Linked DNA regions of Homo sapiens: region 1 is linked to region 2. Evidence: fine-mapped expression QTL. Tissue or cell type: whole blood. Region 2 holds a variant in brackets; the other region holds the start of a gene. All regions are shown on one strand. Distances are from middle to middle.

Region 1 (2,914 bases), 320 kb before region 2:
AGAAACAGGGATCTAGGGAGAAAAAACAAGGTCTTCACCCAATTTCCATTTGAAATCAGAGACCCAGCCAGGGCTAGCACACAGGTGTCCCAACCCCTAATTATTACAAAGCTCTCTTGGCCACTGCATAGAGGAGGCTAGGCACCTCTCTTTCTGACTCAACAGCAGGGGTTGCTTCGAGACTGTTCCTAACACAGGCCAAGTGTCTTCCTGGGGTAAGACTGGATTAGGGGACCCTGCTCGGTCAGTGGTCCTGGTGATCGCCTAGGGAAATAGATCTATTCTGCTGGGATCTGGGACTGAATCCTAGGCAGGTTTGTGGGGAGTAGGATGGTGAGAGGTGCTGGAAGGCACGGGTCCACTTCTTAACCTTCCTTTTAACTCTGTGCTGCTGGGTGGAAGCTTTATAGTCAATGTCCTCTCCATCTCTGGCCACATTCCCAGGACTCCTGATCATTAGAGTGACTGTTGTCCCAAGTGGACATAATTATAAATAGCTCCCTTCTTTTACTGAAAGTGTCCTACAGTGGACAATAATTTAGTCCCCTCCTCCAGTGGAAAATATACTACACGCATGCAAAAGCTCAGAGGGCTCCAGGAGTCGTCCCAACTCCCCTTTCTCAGTTCCTTGGGATTTTTTTTTTTAAGTTTGTCCTCTACTAGATCGCTTCTCATTCACCAGGATATCTTAGATCAAGGCTGGCGTTTGAAGCCTCTGCCTGAGTTCAAGCCCCTTGCTTCCGGTGTTCCTGTCCAAGCCCGCGGACTGGAATCTCCCAAGGAAGTTACGAATAATTCGGGGGGGGTGGCGAAATGGGGGGTGGAGTGGGGCGTGAAACTGCAGCCTTCACCTGGCTAACAGAAGAGGACTCAGGACGCCCAGCACCCTGGATAGGACCCAACAGCGCTCCCTGGAGGTGTGGGTGCAAAGTTTTGTCTAGCTTGGCCTCCAAGGCCCTCCAGGCAATGCACTGGGAAGGGAAGAATTAGTGATTAAATTTGACCTGAATCAAAAGATGCCTTCAGTTCCTCTTCTGCTGAAAACACTAGAAATACAAGCCCAGGATGTGGGGATCGGGGGCAAGCGGTGACACCAACTAAAAGGAAGCAATGGATTTCCTTTTAAATGGAGAGGAGGATGTCGGAGAGATACCATGAAACGAATTCTCGAAACTCCAGGCAGCAATACCGATGAAAGCGCATTCTTCCAAAACAGAGCTCCTCATTCAGGGCCACATCTGAGCCTGGGGGCCCAATGCTCAGAGCGTGCCTGGCTTTCTGGGGAAAAGCGCCAGGAACATGAACGAGCTACGAAGAGCTGGAGCGGGCGCTGCGGGAGCAGCGTGTGGGGAACGGCTCGGGAGTCGCTGCTGGTAACCCCGGCCCAGCCGCCCGCAGCTGGGCTCGCAGCCGGCTCGCAGCCGACACCCAGGGTGCTGCGCCCGGGGCCCCGGGCCGCGGAAGGATATTTCACTTTGTTTACCTCCCCGGCCGGGCGAGGGAGCTGCGAGGCCGGTGCTGGCGCCCCCGGCACGGAGCTGCAATGGCAGCGGCGCGGGGAGCCGCCCGAGGACTGGCAGCGGCGGGGCTGATTGATGGGCGCCCGGCGCAATGAGGGGGGCCCGGGCGGGGGCGGGGCGGGGCCGGCTCTGGGCTGAGCCAGTCGCGGGGGCGGCGGGGGGGGGGCGGAGGCTCCGTGGAAATGTGTCGGTGACATTGAATGGGGAGACCGAGCGCGAGCGAGGCGCGCGCGCGCACACGCGCACTCACGGCCCCGCTCGCTCCGAGATCCCCGGCCACGTAAGTAACTATTAATACCGCCTCGCCGGGGGATGCGGGCGTGCTGAGCGCGGGGATTGGCCTCGGGCACCGTCGGCCGTCCCCTTTAATTTTTAAATACACGGTCCCCTCTTTTCTCTGGGGGGGGCAAGCAAGAAATCAAAGAAGGAGGAGACAAGCCGTCAATTTTCTCCAAAACAAACCCCACCGGGCAATTTGGTCTCGGGGTAGGGGGAGACGGGGTGATTGCAAATTATTCCAGGACGAGATCCAGTTCTCCAGCGGGAAAGGGGCAAAGGAACGCCGCGCGTTGGAAGGGCCAGGGACGCAGCTCCCCTTGCAGCGCCCGCAGGACCCCCGCAAGCTCGTGCCGGCGAAATCGGAGACCGCCGATCTGTCCTCGTTCTCTCCTGCACGTCTGGCTGCATTCGGAGGAAGACCTGGGGCGCGAGCGAGCGGCGACAGCATGAGCCTGTGCTGACCTCCGCGCGGCGGGCCGAGCCCAGGGCTTTGTCGCGGTACCTGCGCCCAGCCCGCGCCGCAACTCTGTGCCCAGCTTTTGCAATCTTTTGTTGGCAGCGCTGACCGCACCAAGTTAAATGCTCCCTTGCAATTTTTCTTTTTTTTGTTTGTTTGTTTAATTTTTGGAGAGCTCGCGATCTTGGAAAAGCCTCAGACGCCATCTACAGTTAAAACGTAGGTAACTGCCCTCTCCCGCACCCCCCCCTTACACGCCCCCCACCCTTTCCACCAAAAAAAGGGGGTGCAGCGCGGATTCTGGCTGCCGTGCGTCGCCAGCCGGTAGACCCGTGCTTGTTTCCTTTCTCTTTTTGTTTGGCTTCTAACGCGTTGGGACTGAGTCGCCGCCGTGAGCTCCCCGAAGACTGCACAAACTACCGCGGGCTCCTCCGCCCCGTCTGCGATTCGGAAGCCGGCCTGGGGGTCGCGTCGGGAGCCCTGGCGCTGCAGCTCCGCACCTTAGCAGCCCGGGTACTCATCCAGATCCACGCCGGGGACACACACACAGAGTAACTAAAAGTGCGGCGATTCTGCACATCGCCGACTGCTTTGGGGTAACAAAAAGACCCGAGTTGCCTGCCGACCGAGGACCCCCGGGAGCCGGGCTCGGAGCAGA
Region 2 (2,914 bases):
CCACTGACTCAAATGTTAATCTCTTTTGGAAACACCGTCACAGAAACACCCATAATCAATACTTTGCATCCTTCAATCCAATCAAGATGACACTCAGTATTAACCATCAGAGAGCTTAAGGGAATAAAACATGTGGGAAGAAGTTACTTCTCAACTTTCCAGAATAGCTCTTAGAAGTGTAGGAGAGATTGGAGTCTCTTAAGTAGGTAGACTAAATTGGCTTTAACAGGAGAAAAACAGGAGGTGGAAAATAGAGTAGAAATTCTGAGGTTATGTGTGGGACTACAGACTTGTGGCAGAGAAGAATCACATATTACCTGGAAATTGAGAGGGGTCCACCCACCAAGTGTGTGAATGCGCAGGAGGGTGTTTAGTTAGTTAGATTTCTAAAGCCTCGTTCTGCTCAATCCCATGGGATTAAAGCTGTGGGGCTGATCCCGTAGTGTATATCAAAGGATTAGGAGCCAAAGGGTAACACACAATGAAAAATAGATGATTTGAGTTTATCATTTGAACAAATAGAAAAAACATAATGCTTAAAAAAATTGAGAATTAAGATCCTGCAGAGGCACAGGGAATTATTAAGTGAAATTACACACTCTTTTATGTGGACTATGTAACTGATAAATTTATGTAGAAACAGATTATCATCAAAAGAAGAAATTATCATTCTAAAAATCTGAATAAAACAGCTCCACACAAGTATAAAGGGTGATTATTAAATAAGCTGTTCTAAACTAAACTAAAAATGCTTAATTTTGATTAATGAGTCAATCATGAAAGTTTTTTTCTGGTCAGCTGAATTCAAGGCTTGGGTATTTATCCCAACCTCTCTAAGCTCTATCTGAGCACAATTCTTTTGCCCCAAAATCTACAACTTAACGAGGGAGATGACATATTAATAGGAAACTGCAATTCAACTTAATAACAACTTTGATAAAAGGCATTATTGGTTACAATGAAAACACTGAAGGGCAATGAGTCCAATTTGATTGTTAGGTCAGAGTTTCTCAAAGAGGTTTCACATAAGCTGTATGATGAAAGATATATCATAACTGACAGCACAGAAAAAAAACAGATTGTTGGAAACAGTTAACTCAAAGTACTGATGGGGAGCATTCTTTTCCACTTTGTAAAAGTGCATGCATCCCCTGACAAAGGTTCCTACTGCAAGAGCTATCTCCAGCCAGGCAAACGGGATACAGGCGAAAAAGGATAAATAAACACCCCCAGCACTAACAGTGAGTCTGTTCTTCAAGAAGCGTTCATTATGTTAGAGCTGAGAGTAGAAAAACAGGGTTCACAGTTTTCCAAGTTCACAGGCTGCTGACTTGTTCGTCTTTGTTTTAGTCGGCGATCATAAGAATTCTATCAAATTCTACCCAGTGTAAACAGGAATCAAAATATGCCTAATATTGAAAGCATTTTTTAAAAAAATAAATTATTTAGGCCGGGTATGGTGGCTCATGCCTGTAATTCCGGCACTTTGGGAGGCCAAGATGGGCGGATCACTTGAGGTTGGGAGTTCGAGACCAGACTGACCAACATGGA[G/A]AAACCCCATCTCTACTAAAAACACGTAATTAGCCAGGCGTGGTGGCACATGCCTGTAATCCCAGCTACCCGGGGAGGTAGAGGCAGGAGAATCACTTGAACTCGGGAGGCAGAGGTTTCAGTGAGCCAAGATTGCACCATTGCACTCCAGCCAGGGCAACAGAGCAAGACTCCATCTCAAAAAATATATAAATAATAATAATAATGAAATAAAATAAAAAATAAATTATTTAAACTCAACCTAAGTAAACCAATTCTATAACATTTTCTGAACTATTAACTGTGCTGGCTTTGGAATGCGGAGGTCACAGAGCGTAGCAAAACCGCAGCTCCAGATTTCAGAGCATTTCCAAGTTATCCTTCTCTTTGGAGTGAGGACAATGATAATCGGGAAATGTTGAAGAAATAAGAAGAAGACAAGAAAACCACTGAATTCTCAAAGGGCTAACACAGAATTCTGAAAGGGCTAAAAAGTTTCATTTAAGAAGTAGCATTTGTATTAAATGTTACCAAAACATGTCTTATGTATTTTTGCTTAATGGATATTTGACGTCTATGCATTATGCAAATGTGGTCATGTGTGAACAGGAAGGAAATTTTCTTATTTGTGTCACAAGGAAATTCAGCCAATATTCACTTTAGTTATTTCAGAGCAACACTTGCAATCCTTCTAAATATGAAACACCAAATAATGTATGTATTTATTCCCATACTCTGAGGGAGACTGAATATGAATAATTGGGTCTCACATTGGAATAATTGAATTCTAAATTAAAAGAACTTTACAGTAATAAATGAGTCTAATAAAATAGTTATTTTGAACCATCTATTTTTAAAGAATGCTTGGGGTATTGCTGATATGTGTAACAGGAAGAACTTTTGAAATTTTGCCCAAGGCATAGGATTGTAATGATTTTTCAAGGACCTCAATATCCATAAACATTAATGATCCTATAGAACAGCCTGGACTCCTTAGTCCAGTCAAAAGATAATAGACTTTGTCTTCATAAGTATGAGTTTAAATGCATACACCTTCACTTACTAGCCTACTACTTTGGGCAATGTATTAACCTCTATGAGTCTCGTTCTTAAATTGTAAAAGGCACATAATATACATTGAAGGATTAATATGAAGACTATAAATAATATGTTACCACCATGTTCCTGACCCTGCCAGTGTGTATCAATATCACATTTTCTTTAATACTCTAATGATACTAGTTCTATCTTGCCAAATTAACAGAAACTCTAGTCTCTTTCCCAAAGCGCAATGCCCTCAATATTTCTGAGAATCCCTAAGTTTGCCTATACTTGTCCATACGTCAGACATTCTTATTGTTTCTTTGTTGCCACTTGTCAAAAA

The links. PIP is the estimated chance that this variant, and not a neighbour inherited with it, causes the effect.
Region 1: TRIB2 starts here. The variant in region 2 is fine-mapped to the expression of TRIB2 in whole blood (Lepik 2017, PIP 0.95).

Annotation. Positions count from the first base shown.
Region 1 is chr2:12,715,211-12,718,124 of GRCh38, forward strand. It overlaps TRIB2 (tribbles pseudokinase 2), which reads left to right and starts at 1,726. Exons shown (of 3, transcript NM_021643.4): 1 at 1,726-2,914. It overlaps LOC124905974 (a long non-coding RNA gene), which reads right to left and starts at 1,548. Exons shown (of 2, transcript XR_007086222.1): 1 at 1-1,548. RefSeq lists silencers at 1,314-1,533, 1,624-1,683 and enhancers at 1,636-2,275, 2,124-2,193.
Region 2 is chr2:13,035,733-13,038,646 of GRCh38, forward strand. All of the region lies in intron 1 of LOC105373436 (a long non-coding RNA gene), which reads left to right. Among named protein-coding and RNA genes, the nearest start is that of MIR3125, 300 kb to the left of the region's middle. The variant G/A (reference allele first, on the strand shown) is at 1,552.